Homo sapiens: one gene and its partners. The protein of the gene in region 2 purifies or fractionates together with the protein of the main gene of each other region. This does not show direct contact. Each region holds a gene or a part of one and is shown on either strand. Other genes may lie near its edges.

Region 1 (3,500 bases), on a different chromosome or scaffold from region 2:
TCCTCCATAACCACGGGTGATCTGCAAGTGATCAAGTTCACTCTCTACAGGAAACTGTTTCTGGCAGTTTCTGATTTAACGGTCTGCTATTCTTTGCAGCGCCTCACTGTTTTAGAATCCCATGACATGCTTCGTAAATTCATCATATTTTTAAGAGACCAAGATCGATGCCGTGATGTATGTGAAAGTTTAGAAGGATGCCATACGCTTTGTCTAATGGGTAAGTATCCGTGGCTGGAACTTGATTGTGTCCTGGCCATCAGGGAAAGCCCGAGTGTTTTGCCTGTCACTATTCTAGAGATTTGGTTGTTTTCTGTAACAATTGGAAGTGCTTACAATAAAAAACACGTATTTAGATAGACAGTTAAAATAGACATGTAAATAAAAATCACATGGAAAATATTCCAGCCTGGCAAACTAGTTAAGTGACTGTTAATGAACATTAGATGTCAGCCTTTAGCTTCCTGGCAGTCAAGGAGAAAGTGAAAATGTGGTGAATTGCCTGGATAATTCCCATCTCAAGAGAGAAGGGAGGGAGTAGTTAGGTGGGGCTTATATCAGAGCAGCGCCTGCTTTACCTATTTTACAGTGTTTTCATTGTAGATGGAAGAAAGGGTTTATGAATAGAAGCATTTGAGGCAGAGGCACAGAATTCTCCTTGCCTAAATTTATTTTAGATAGGAAAAGTTTTTTTTGTTTTTTTTTTTTTGAAGACAGGGTCTCACTTTGTCACCCAGGCTGGACTGCAGTGGCACAGTCATGGCTCACTGCATCCTCTACCTCCTGGGCTTAGGTGATCCTCCCACCTCAGCCTCCTGAGTAGCTGGGACTACAAGCGCACACTACCACGGCCGACTAATTTTTGTATTTTTAGTGGAGACGGGGTTTTTCACCATGTTGCCCAGTCTAGTCTCCTTGGGCTCGAACAATCCACACGCCTCAGCCTGCGAGATTACAGACTTGAGATAAAAACTTCCCTGGGGCCAAATTTCATGAGGAGTTTCTGGTGCGAATGTTCACACGAGTGACGTTGACTAACTGGTGAACGTTGAATAACAGCGACTTCCCACGACACTCAGATACTCTTCAAAGACCATTTCTTATGTTAACCCTTGATTTTTAAGCATTAATATAATATTAAAATGTAACACTAACTAAATATCACCTACCTCTGTGTGCCTAACATTTTACCTGCCACTTCATCCTCATATGGAGAGTAGGGATCATCATTCCAATCTTACAAATGAAGAAACAAGTTTGAGACATGGGTTGACGGCCACGGCTCACCTTGTCTGTGGCATAGCCAGGATTTGAAGTCAGCTTGGCCCGTTTCTTACCTTTGCACCACACAGCAGCCTCCGGCATTGACAGGTGCCCCTTATGTGGAAATTTCTTGCTGCACATGGGATGTGGCCGCCTGAGCCACAGGCAGGGAGCAGGGCCGGGAGGCACCAAAATGTTTGTCTGGGCCCATCACACTCAGCCTTCTCTCTCTGTAGGCAACCTCCTACACTTGGGCTCCCTCAGCCCCAGAGTGTTAGAGGAGGAGACAGATGGGTTCGTGAGTTTGCTCACCCAGACGCTGTGCTACTGTCGGAAGTATGTGTCTCAGAAGAAGTCCAACCTGACCCACTGGCATCCTGTCCTTGGCTGGTTCTCCCAATCTGTGGATTATGGGTGAGTCCCAGATGCAAATCACTGTCTTTCCTGCCTCTCTCCCACCATCTTCTTCTTCCTTCTTTCTTTCTTCCAGCTTGTGGTGTTTTGTTTCTTATTATAAAAATAATATGTATTCATTATATATTAATAAATTGTGAGTAAGAACAAAAGAGGATAAAAACCAGCCCATTATCCTGTAAACCAAAGATAACTTGAGTGAACATCCTGTCAGTTTTCCTATCTAGAAATACTGATCCTTTTTTACAAAATTGAAATCCTATTATTTTGTATTTTGTTCCTTCCATTCAGCTATGGACCTTATCAATGTTTTTTCTTCTTCACTGTCACTTTTTGACTAGACTGCCATATTTTGGAGATGCTAAAACAAGACAAATGATTCAAAGGGAATAGAAATCACCCAAAATCCTTTTCAAGAGGTGGAATATAAATTTTTAAAAGTGTAATTATGAACTTAAAAACATGAGAAACACTAGACTAGAAGAAGGGAGATCAAGTAAGGTGCAGCTTCATGAATTTGAAATATCTACCTGAGCTGAGATAAAGTGGTTTCTGGAGAGGAACCAGCTCTGCTGCCCCAGCTGTTTTCTTGTTCACATATCTGCTCGAGGCATGGGGTCCCTGGCAGTTACCCTTGCAGCAGAAAACTAAAGGCCTGGGGAGGAAATCCCCAAATTTTTCTTTTGTTGTACCTGAGTGACATCCCTGGGTCCTATCTAGTTAAAAAGACTCATTGCTAGGGAACAGCCTGCCCCAGCGTGACACCTCAGCCTGAGGAGGATGGGGCGGAGGTGCTGAGAGTCAGGAGGCTGTGGGAGGTAAGTGAAGGAGAGCAGCACCTCCGCAGACAGCCTGCTCTCCGCTCCACTTCCTCTTCTTGGAGGGACTTGGACGACTTGCTTTGCCTTGCTTTCCTCATCTGAAACCTGGGGATAATTTTCACCCTCCCTTTGATAGGGCTTTCTAGAAAGATTGAATGAGATAATGCATGTGAAGCACCTACCAGCAGGCAGGCCTGGCCGTACTCAGGGGTGGCGGCTATTAACAATATGATGATCAATGTGGGAACCACTAGGAGTCTCACCTCACCTTCTTGAGCAGGAAGGTGACAGCAGATTCCAGGAAGTTGAGGGATGCTGAGTGCAGTGTGGAGTCAGGCAAGGAACCCCTGGAATGCAAGGAAACACTGAGGAGGCTGCTGAGTCATCTAGATTTGGCCCCCCACCACCTGCAAGCCAGCTATGAGGAGGGAGGCAGTGCAGTGGGTACAAGATTGTTTTTGTCACCTGGGTGGTAGCAAGTGTCTTCGAGAAGAGTGTGACTCATGGAGCTTGGGGACCTGGGGAAAGCAGACAAGATGAAGAGTCAATGCCCTTGACGTACCAGCCCCTCAGCAATGATTTGTTAGTTCCACTTTTTATTTTTGTAATCTTCTTTGCCATGTTGAGTGCCAGGTCCTAGCTACAGCTCCGAGTGGAAGGCCATTAGGAACTGTGTGGGCTGGCCCTGGCCCTGCATCAGATGGAACTGACAGACCAGGTCTCCTCTGCTCTCTCCTAGCCTTAACGAGTCAATGCACTTGATCACCAAACAGCTGCAGTTCTTGTGGGGGGTGCCTCTGATCCGGATCTTCTTCTGTGACATCCTGAGCAAGAAGCTACTGGAGAGCCAGGAGCCAGCCCACGCACAGCCAGCATCCCCTCAGAATGTGCTCCCAGTGAAGAGTGAGTGACGGGAGCAGGCCCAACCCTGTAGCTCCACTTGGCTGAAGTACAGCTCCTGTTTCTTCCTATATGGATGTTCCGCTGTGTTTGTGGGATGCT
Region 2 (4,051 bases):
CTCCCAAAGTGCTGGGATTACAGGCGTGAGCCACCGCGCCCGGCCTTTTTTTAAAAAAATGTGTTTATTTTCCTTGCGGAGCAGGGCTGCCCCATAAGCAGTGTGCCCAGAGTAGCCCAAATTCCCTAATTCTGTCCGCACTTACACCATCCAATCATACAAGCAGTTGTTAGATCGTTGTGTGCTACTGTTCCAGGGGCCGCTGGAGGTAGAAATTCCATTTCACTAAAATCTAGTCTGTCCTTTGCCCCCACTAGTTGAGTCCAGTTAGTGAGTGTGGAGGTGGGGGCTGGAGGTGTAGAAGAGATAAATAAATATATAGAGAGCCAGTCCAGCTGTCTGGAGGACATTGTCCGCCTCCTCCAATCCCATCAGTTGCCACATCTTCTTTGGTCAGGCTGGCTTTCTCACCTGGTCTCCTTTCTGTGCCCTCCTCACACTGGCTGCCAAAGTGATTCAGCCAGATAGACTGCAAGCCCCGTGAGTGCACGGACGGTGGGTGGTCCATAAACGTCTGATGAACTAATGATACAAGCTTGAATATAGTCTCCTAAAAAAATCTTTAGTTTCTCCTCTGCTTCTAGAATAAAAATCAGATCGCCCCATTTGGCCTTCAAGACCTACTACATTCAGCCACAGTCAGCTTCATTTCCCTTTTTTCCTTTCACTACCTCGAAGGCCAGATTAGCCAGTGATTCACTATGCTTGCCCCGGGCCACTTGTATCCTCTCACCTCCGTTCCAGGCAGCCCTCGCAGCAGATCCTAACGCTTAGGGCTCCTCCAAGTGTACAGGCTCGTGAGGCTTCCCTCCCGCTAAGACCAGTGCGCCCTCAGCACACGCAGTGTGGTCTCGCCCGCCGCTCTGCGCTCGCCCTGCAGGAGAGGGAGCTCTTTGAAGGCAAGGCCGAACCTCCCCCGAGCCCTGAGCTGGGCCTGCCGCCACAGATGTGCAGTCCTGCCGGGGAGCAGTCACCCGGGGACAGGGCCGGGCCCCGGGCTGCACGTCGGGAAGAGACAGCGTGCTCCTGAGGTGGCCAGGCCGCTGCAACTGGCCAGGGCGGGCCCGGGCGGCGAGGGAAGGGGTGGGAAGCCCGGGCCGCGGCGCTTCCTGCTGGGACCCGGCGGCACGCCCCTGCCCCCGCCCCGGCCGAGCCTGCGCTGCCGGCCTCCGGCCCTGCCGGCCGCCCAATCAGCGGGCGCCCCCCGCGCGGCCCGCCCCTCCCCCTCTGGTGACAGAAAGTCGGCCCAGCAGATGAGGAAGTGGCAGGCAGGCAGGCTGGCCCCGGGGACTTCTCTCTGGCCCTGCTCCCTCCGAGCGCTCCGCCGTTGCCCGCCTGGCCCCTACGGGTGAGTCTGGACCTTCCACGGACTCTCCACGTGCCGGCGCCCCCTGCCTGGCCAGCCCGGCCCAGCCCGGCCCAGCCCTGCCCTGCCCTGCCCAGGCTGTGGGCGAGGGTGTTCCCGGGGCCAGTGGGTGGGAGGTCCCAGCTCCCTGGGGCCGGGCCTCGCCAGCACCCTCCCTCCCCCACACCCCCGTCTCTGGCCCCCATTTGCCTACACCCGGGCCTTCCTCCACCACCCCTGCATTTACCTCTCTCCCTCCTCCTCTCCCCTCCCTCCCCCCGCTACCCTAACTTTGCCAGGCACCTTTTCCCTTCCATCCATCTTAAAGGAAGGAAGGGACGGGCTGAGTTCCCCGACGAGAGACACACCCAGATTTTCCTGCAGCTTGGGGAGAGGTCCTCCCAGGAGCCTTGGTCCCTCCTGGCCTGCCGGGTGTGTGGGTTGATATTGGGGGCTGGTGGTTGAGAGATAACAGGCTGGCTGGCTCCCATGTGTCAGGGAGGAACCTGTGTTGGCGCCCTCGCCCCGGCCTGGGCCCTGCCGGCGATGGGCGGCCAGCAAGCCCGATGGTGGGGGAGCAAGTAAGGAGGGGATCCGAGCGTGGCCAGGCAGCGCGCACACGTGTGTGAGTGGCCCCGCGGGTGAGCCCGTGCGTGTGCCTGGGCGGTGGCCGAGCTGCGTGAGGGCCGGGAGCCATGCGTGTCAGCCCACGGAGGTGTTGCGTGGTGTGTCAGGCAGGAGACGTGTGTGCCAGCCCTCGGCGTGGCACCTTCGCTGTTGGGGGTGGAGAGCTAGGTGAGAGGTGGGTGTGGACCGCAGGCTTGGGGCCTGACCACGGTGGGCCTAAAGAAGCCGGGCCTCCTGGAGGTGAGGGGTGTGCGGGGCAGGGAGGTGTCAGAGGTGCGCCTCTTCACTTGGCATCTGCAGAGGTGCTTCTCTGGAAGCAGGGAGTCTGGGGCACCTGCTGCCCTGGGCCCTGCTCTGTTCCAAGAATGCCTTGTCCCTCAGGGACTGTCAGTACCATGCTCTCCTGGGTCTGGCCAGAGGCTTTTGTGTCCCTGGGAGCCTTCCCCCGACATTCCTTCAGGCCCTGAGGGGGAGGGGGCCTAGCCCAACGGGGCCCCTCCCTGAGGGAGGGGAAGATTCCTGCGACCTCCCCCACTCCCCAACCCCTTCACATGCCACTGGCTTCCCTGCCCTTCCCAGGAAGGGAAGAGTGATTGTACCCATTCTGAAGTAGGACAAACTGAGCAGTTATGGCCGGCTTAGGAGAGGATGCTGGGTGTGGATTTTCAGCAGTGCTTTGGGCCAGGGCTGGGGCTGGGGCTGGGGTCAGAGGAGGTTTCTGGCTCAGAATCTAGGACCTTAGCTCATCAGGCTGGTCCCACGTGGGTGGGTGGGTGGCGAGTCTGGGGCTTTACTTGGCTTTCCCAATCCTGGTGGGTCCTGCTCCCCCAGGCACTGACCTGTGGCCCGGACCCACCCTCCACCCCCTGCACAGTACAGCAGGGGCGGGCAGAGGGCGGGGCTGCTGCCAGATCTAGTCAGACAGGTGGAGCCGCCGGGGCAGGAGTCTCAAAGAGCCAGGCTCCAGGAGAGGAAGGGCTCTGCGAGAGGAGAGAGGAGAGCGCTGGAGAGGAGAGGCTGGAGGTGAGAGTCCCAGGAAAGGCAGAGGAGAATCGTAGGGACATAAGTGTCCCAGCACAGGCAAGGAGGAATCCGAGGATAAGGTTCTGGAGGGACAGAAGGGCCCAGAGAGGTGAGAGTCCTGGCAGGGACAGGAGGGACCCTGGGGAGAAGAGAGTTCAGGAAGGGTCCAGAGGGATGGGAAGAGGAGAGGGCAGGAGAGGAGAGATTGAAGGGGAGAATCCCTGGAGAGAAGAAAGACCCAGAGCTGGGGAGGTGAGGGACTCGGGTGAGGAAGGGAGACGGAGTTCAAGAGCTCCCTGTTGGTGAGAAGGTAAGATTCTCCAGTAAGAGACCTGGAATTGAGAGTTATCTTGTGGAGGAAGAGGGGAAGGGAGGCCAGGAAGTAAAACTGTGGAGAGGAGAGGAGAGTAAGGTGTGGAGAGGAAGGGTGGAACAGCTCTTCCCAGGCAAGCAGGATGTGTGGGGAGCAGATGCCTCAACCAAACTGCCTCCTCCCCCTAGTTCCCAGTAATTCCTTCCTTTCACTGTTCTGTCCTTTCTGCAATGAGGCATTGCAGGTGTCTTGTCTGGTTCTGTGTCTTATCTCTGTGGGATGGGGGTGTGCAGTGGGATCTGTCTGACATCCGCCCTCTGTACCTCCCCAGAGTCCTTAGCCAGGATGGAGGCTGTTGTGAACTTGTACCAAGAGGTGATGAAGCACGCAGGTAAGACGCTATCCACCAGCCCTTTCCTTCCTTCTTTCCCGGGATCCCTGGATCTACGGCTGTCTTCTAATGGAGAGTTCCTATGAAACCCTTGATCCTGTGACCTGACCTCATGTCTGTAGACCCTTCAAATGAAGACCCTTCGAACCCTGTGACTCTTCCTGATTCCTTTGACCCTTATTCATAGATCCCCGGATCCAGGGCTACCCTCTGATGGGGTCCCCCTTGCTAATGACCTCCATTCTCCTGACCTACGTGTACTTCGTTCTCTCACTTGGGCCTCGCATCATGGCTAATCGGAAGCCCTTCCAGCTCCGTGGCTTCATGATTGTCTACAACTTCTCACTGGTGG
Region 3 (3,004 bases), on a different chromosome or scaffold from region 2:
TGATCAACCAAGTGCCTTGTCTGTAGTGTCAACTCATTGCTGCCCCTTCCTAGTAATCCCCATAATTTAGCTCTCCATTTCATAGTCTTTCCTTGGGTGTGTTAAAAGTGACCATGGTACACTCAGCACGGATGAAATGAAACAGTGTTTAGAAACGTCAGTCTTCTCTTTTGTAATGCCCTGTAGTCTCTCTGTATGTTATATGTCACATTTTGTAATTAACAGCTTGCTGGTGAAAAGGACCCCACGAAGTGTTGGATATAAGCCAGACTGTAAGTGAATTACTTTTTTTGTCAATCATTTAACCATCTTTAACCTAAAAGAGTTTTATGTGAAATGGCTTATAATTGCTTAGAGAATATTTGTAGAGAGGCACATTTGCCAGTATTAGATTTAAAAGTGATGTTTTCTTTATCTAAATGATGAATTATGATTCTTTTTAGTTGTTGGATTTGAAATTCCAGACAAGTTTGTTGTAGGATATGCCCTTGACTATAATGAATACTTCAGGGATTTGAATGTAAGTAATTGCTTCTTTTTCTCACTCATTTTTCAAAACACGCATAAAAATTTAGGAAAGAGAATTGTTTTCTCCTTCCAGCACCTCATAATTTGAACAGACTGATGGTTCCCATTAGTCACATAAAGCTGTAGTCTAGTACAGACGTCCTTAGAACTGGAACCTGGCCAGGCTAGGGTGACACTTCTTGTTGGCTGAAATAGTTGAACAGCTTTAATATACAATAATTGTTGCATTATTATTTCAGATGATAAATGTGGTCATAAGTAAGAAATAAATGATCGAGTTTAGTCTTTTAATTCACTGTCCTTTGAATACCTGCCTCTTACTCTGGAGGCAGAAGTCCCATGGATGTGTTTATGAACATGGTTGAGGAAGATTTAGGAAGACTGCAACAGTACACTACCTAAAGCAGGTTTTTTACTCCATCTTTTTTTGCCACGTACACTGGCCTCCCACTTTGATATGCTTGAAATTATCTCCTTGATTTGTCTTTCAAAACTACATATTGAGGCTGGTTGCGGTGGCTCACACCTGTAATCCTAGCACTTTGGGAGGCCAAGCCGGACAGATCACTTGAGGTCAGGAGTTCGAGACCAGCCTGGCAAACATGATGAAACCCCACCTTTACTAAAAATACAAAAATTAGCCAGGCGTAGTGGTGTGTGCCTGTAACCCAGCTACCTGGGAGGCTGAGGCAGGAGAATCACTGGAACCCGGGAGGCAGAGGCTACAGTGAGCCAACATCACGCCACTGCACTCCAGCCTGGGTGACAGAGCAAGACTCTGTCTCAAAACAAAACAAAAAACAAAAAACTACGTATTAAGACAAGAAACAGACTGGGCGCGGTGGCTCACGCCTGTAATCCCAGCACTTTGGGAGGCTGAGGCGGGCGGATCACAAGGTCAGGAGATCGAGACCATCCTGGCTAACACGGTGAAACCCCGTCTCTACTAAAAAATAGAAAAAATTAGCTGGGGTGGTGGCGGGCGCCTATAGTCTCAGCTACTCGGGAGGCTGAGGCAGGAGAATGGCGTGAACCCGGGAGGCAGAGCTTGCAGTGAGCAGAGATCGTGCCACTGCACTCCAGTCTGGGTGACAGAGCAAGACTCCGTCTCAAAAAAAAAAACAAAAACAAGAAACAAATTAAACTAATGTGATAGACTACTGCTTTGTTTTCAAAAGATACACTCCCCAAAAGTTACTGATCTAAAATACAGTAGTACTATCTCTGTTTAGTAAGAACCCTGACAACTAATAGTGTTCTTATATGTAAAATGCTATTCTTGCCTTTCATTTCAGAATATACTTTTTAAATGTGAATTTCTGGATTTTTTTTTATAGCATGTTTGTGTCATTAGTGAAACTGGAAAAGCAAAATACAAAGCCTAAGATGAGAGTTCAAGTTGAGTTTGGAAACATCTGGAGTCCTATTGACATCGCCAGTAAAATTATCAATGTTCTAGTTCTGTGGCCATCTGCTTAGTAGAGCTTTTTGCATGTATCTTCTAAGAATTTTATCTGTTTTGTACTTTAGAAATGTCAGTTGCTGCATTCCTAAACTGTTTATTTGCACTATGAGCCTATAGACTATCAGTTCCCTTTGGGCGGATTGTTGTTTAACTTGTAAATGAAAAAATTCTCTTAAACCACAGCACTATTGAGTGAAACATTGAACTCATATCTGTAAGAAATAAAGAGAAGATATATTAGTTTTTTAATTGGTATTTTAATTTTTATATATGCAGGAAAGAATAGAAGTGATTGAATATTGTTAATTATACCACCGTGTGTTAGAAAAGTAAGAAGCAGTCAATTTTCACATCAAAGACAGCATCTAAGAAGTTTTGTTCTGTCCTGGAATTATTTTAGTAGTGTTTCAGTAATGTTGACTGTATTTTCCAACTTGTTCAAATTATTACCAGTGAATCTTTGTCAGCAGTTCCCTTTTAAATGCAAATCAATAAATTCCCAAAAATTTAACTGCTTTATGAATTCAATTTAAAAATCCTTAAAATAAGTCCTGTCTCTTTAAAAAAACCTATGCATAGTTATCATTTCTCTACAAATTAACCTAGTTTAGTTTTCTGTTGGTTCCATTTTCCTTGTTTGTTAAGTTTTAGTAGCTAGTTTAATTGTAATCTCAATGATTATGTGGTAGAATGGGTTGGCGGAGCTACAAAAATTCCTAGCTACTTCAGAGACATTAAATTTCAGACACATGGTACACTTTATATTACATTTTACTATGCTAAAATAACACGGCTTTCTTTTGGAATTCTGTTCAGTTTTTCAGATTGTAATCTCAGCTACATCTCAACAGATTGTTCTCAGATATGTCCTATTACCTTCTTTGTGTAGATAGTGCTTTATTGACTAAGAACAATGACAACAACACCTTTTGTTTTCTGGGAATAGGAGAAAAGTTTTAAGCCAAAACTCTTAATTGCTTATCTGCTCCACGTGAGGTATGAACTATCAAA
Region 4 (3,500 bases), on a different chromosome or scaffold from region 2:
TACTTGCAACAGTAACAGCAAGATCCCCAAAACGTATTTTAATAATGAAAAAGCCTGAAATATTGTGGAAATTACCAAAAGGTAACAGAGATAGAAAGTGAACACATGCTGTTGGAAAAACTTCACCAGTAGACCTGCTCAGTGCAGGGTTGGCACAAACCTTCAATTTGTAAAAAAGAAAAACACCTTTATATCTGTGAAGCACAGTAAAATGAGGTATGGCTTAGTAGGGAACCCCATTTTTAAAGGCTCAGTATGAAGGGTCTTAAATTGAAGATGTATTTTTGCGTTCTGGTTAAGACACTATTCCATTTCAGGGTTTTTTGTTTTTAAGTGGTTTCCCAACACTCCTCAGGGAAATTGAGCAAGAATTCCATCGGCAGTCCTCACATCAGGAACAGTGAAAAAGGATAATGTTTATATGGCACCCGAGATAATCAGATAAGGCCAGAAGACAAGAGTCAGAGGGTTCTGCCTAATCTAAGCCCCACCATCCTGATGTTTAAGGGCCCCTGAATCGGAGGACCCTGCCACAGGCACCAACTGAAGTCTTTTGTCCATGTAACAAATTGCAGCTCAAGTTTCAAAGTCAAATCTGTTGGAGTTCAACTCGGAGGTCCATCATTTCCCGGCTGTGTGACCAGTAGTTTCTTAACCATTCAGCCTCAGTTTCCTCATCTATAAAAAGGAATGATAGTACCACGTACAATTGCCAGTTAAATGCAGTGTGTACATTATCTCATTTAGTCTTCATGCAAACCTTCAAGACTCAATCACAAAGAAATGTCCACACATTTCTTAACAAAGAATACATATGCTACTACATACCAACTCTCCTTTGTCAGGGAATCCAATCTAGATTGGTTTAAAATAATTATAGGAAAGAAATTCAGCAGTGAAATATGTGACTATATTGGATGCTTGCTATTTGTCATTTACTGTATTTCTAGCGCTTGTGCCATGTAAGGGCTGATGAACTCAAACCGTAGCTCAGCTTTTTGCATGCTCTTTTTTACCCACCTAGAGGTCCAGTGTTTCCTGTGATACTTACCTCTAAACTGCTAAATAGCCACATTTTACGGAAGCATATTCTTCATACCTTTGCTCTAACTTAAATCTCTAACTTTGCACTATATTTAATATGGGTTTTTTGGGGGGAAGGGGGGAGTGGAGTTGGTTTTTTTTGAGACAGAGTCTCGCTGTCTCGCCCAGGCTGGAGTGCAGTGGCACAATCTCAGCTCACTGCAAACTCTGTCTCCTGGATTCAAGCGATTCTCCTGTCTGAGCCTCCCAAGTACCTGAGATTACAGGCACGTGCCACCACACCCAGCTAATTTTTCTATTTTTAATAGAGACGGGGTTTCACTTTGTTGGCCAGGCTGGTCTGGAACTCCTGACCTCCCGTGATCCGCCCATCTCAGCCTCCCAAAGTGCTGGGATTACAGGCGTGAGCCACCACACCTGGCTAATCTGTTCTTCACTTTCTTTTCTATACTCACTACAAAAAAGGGCAAGGAAGTCTTCACAGCTGCACTTACTAACACCGTCACGGCTCTGTTTTGGCCATCATCTGTTTATTAACTAAACTCTCTTCTCTCCCAACTCCAAATCTTTGTTTCTTCTAGATTGAGTTCTCTCCCTGAAGAGCCTAATCCAACCTGGTCCCTGTAACTGCCCTGATACCTTAGGAGATACCTGGGCTTATTTAACTTCTCTCTGGCCACCATGTCTTTTTCCAGCCTGAGTCAAAGTATATTCTTTGCTCTAACCTAATTCTTTTAAGAATGACAGAGTAAAATAAGTAAAATTTATATGAGGAGGGAGAGGGAGGAGGCAATCAAGAGAATGAATAGTCCCTATTCTTGATTAATCCTTATTATAACTATGAGTTCAAGGGCAATTATATAATCTTGTTAAAGCACCAGGCTAAAAACTTGACATGGAATTGTAATTTCTGTTGTGTATCTAATTACTATGAAAGCCTAGTTCTACCTGTTTCATCATTTATAAAGGGAATTGCAACCCCCACCACGACCAACAAAGTAGTTTCAGAGATTGGGAGGGACTAAGCTAGTCAATGTAAACCAAGCTTGTCCAGCCCATGGCCCGCAGGCCTCAGTGTGGCCCAGGATGGCTTTGAATGCTGCCCAACACAAATTAGTAAATTTCCTTAAAACATGCACAGATCTTTTTTTTTTTAAAGCTCATCAGCTATTGTTAATGTTTGTGTATTGTATGTGTGGCCCAAGACAATTCTTCTTCCAATGTGGCCAAGAGAAGCCAAAATATTGGACCACCCCTGAGTAAACACTGAAATTAATTAACTTCTTCCCTTTTGGATTTTAATTACATAAGTAATAATAAGCTCATTTTTTAATACTTCACCCATTCCTGTATTGTTTGAAACATAAATCCTTTCCCCATTCCCAAAGGTAACAACATATTAACAGTCTGAATGTCATTCCAAGCTTTTCTGCAGTCATTCAAACATATCACTCTTTTTCTAATATTAGGAAAATCTTCACACATACAGAAAGAACTTTACAGTAAACTCACCACCTAGATCTACCATTAACATTTTACTCTACTAGTTTCATCACATTTCATCCATCAATTGGTCTTGTTCATTTTTGCATTTCATAATAAACTGCAGACATTAGTATATTTCCACCTAAATACTTCATCATTCATACCATTAATGATTCAGTCTTGGCCGGGTGCGGTGGCTCACGCCTGTAATCCCAGAACTCTGGGAGGCCAAGGCGGGCAGATCAGCAGGTTAGGAGATTGAGACCATCATGGCTAACACGGTGAAACCACGTCTCTTCTAAAAATACAAAAAATTAGCCGGGCGTGGTGGCAGGCACCTGTAGTCCCAGCTACTCAGGAAGCTAAGGCAGGAGAATGGCATGAACCTGGGAGGCGGAGCTTGCAGTGAGCTGAGATCGCGCCACTGTACTCCAGCCTGGGCTACAGAGCAAGACTCCGTCTCATTCATAAATAAATAAATAAATAAAATGATTCAGTCTTTCTTTACAGTTTTTTTCTGAAGTAAATATTACATGAGACACACGTCTTAAATGTACATTTGCTAAGTTTTGATAAATGTATACACCTGTGTAACCCCAGCCCTATCAAAGATACAGAATATTACCTATCACCCCCAGAAAGTTCTCTCCTGCCCTGTCCAAGTTAATCTTTATCCCACCCCTCCAGAAATAACTACTATTCTGATGTTTTTCCACCAGAGATATCACAAGATATCACATGGTTTTATGATTCATTGTGAACCACAGATGTACAAATATAGGTTAAATTATTGGTCAGAGGCCATACTGATGTTAAGTGCTTTTTGTTGAAAGGATTCATATTTATGATGATTTTAGTTCTATAGTCACTGCATCTTAGTCAGATTATTTGACTAGTATGGATGGATTTTACAAACATTTTGTGGAATTCTTTTTTTAACCTTAGGGAACCTCCACAAGGAGCTCATTTTC

Evidence for each region. The genes of interacting proteins can lie anywhere in the genome.
Region 1: the proteins of ELOVL1 (region 2) and UBE3B purify together in Homo sapiens (affinity purification with mass spectrometry; one large-scale study listed by BioGRID and IntAct). This does not show direct contact.
Region 3: the proteins of ELOVL1 (region 2) and HPRT1 purify together in Homo sapiens (affinity purification with mass spectrometry; one large-scale study listed by BioGRID and IntAct). This does not show direct contact.
Region 4: the proteins of ELOVL1 (region 2) and DHFR purify together in Homo sapiens (affinity purification with mass spectrometry; one large-scale study listed by BioGRID and IntAct). This does not show direct contact.

Annotation. Positions count from the first base shown.
Region 1 is NC_000012.12:109,498,134-109,501,633, forward strand, and holds part of UBE3B (ubiquitin-protein ligase E3B), read left to right. Parts: intron 1-99; coding exon 100-220; intron 221-1,499; coding exon 1,500-1,677; intron 1,678-3,237; coding exon 3,238-3,401; intron 3,402-3,500. UniProt on the Homo sapiens protein: E3 ubiquitin-protein ligase which accepts ubiquitin from an E2 ubiquitin-conjugating enzyme in the form of a thioester and then directly transfers the ubiquitin to targeted substrates.
Region 2 is NC_000001.11:43,365,212-43,369,262, reverse strand, and holds the start of ELOVL1 (very long chain fatty acid elongase 1), read left to right. Parts: upstream 1-1,251; 5' UTR 1,252-1,348; intron 1,349-1,548; exon of another isoform or gene 1,549-1,777; intron 1,778-3,639; 5' UTR 3,640-3,653; coding exon 3,654-3,699; intron 3,700-3,886; coding exon 3,887-4,051. UniProt on the Homo sapiens protein: Catalyzes the first and rate-limiting reaction of the four reactions that constitute the long-chain fatty acids elongation cycle.
Region 3 is NC_000023.11:134,498,165-134,501,168, forward strand, and holds the end of HPRT1 (hypoxanthine-guanine phosphoribosyltransferase), read left to right. Parts: intron 1-225; coding exon 226-272; intron 273-443; coding exon 444-520; intron 521-1,865; coding exon 1,866-1,913; 3' UTR 1,914-2,504; downstream 2,505-3,004. UniProt on the Homo sapiens protein: Converts guanine to guanosine monophosphate, and hypoxanthine to inosine monophosphate. Transfers the 5-phosphoribosyl group from 5-phosphoribosylpyrophosphate onto the purine.
Region 4 is NC_000005.10:80,637,984-80,641,483, reverse strand, and holds part of DHFR (dihydrofolate reductase), read left to right. Parts: intron 1-3,474; coding exon 3,475-3,500.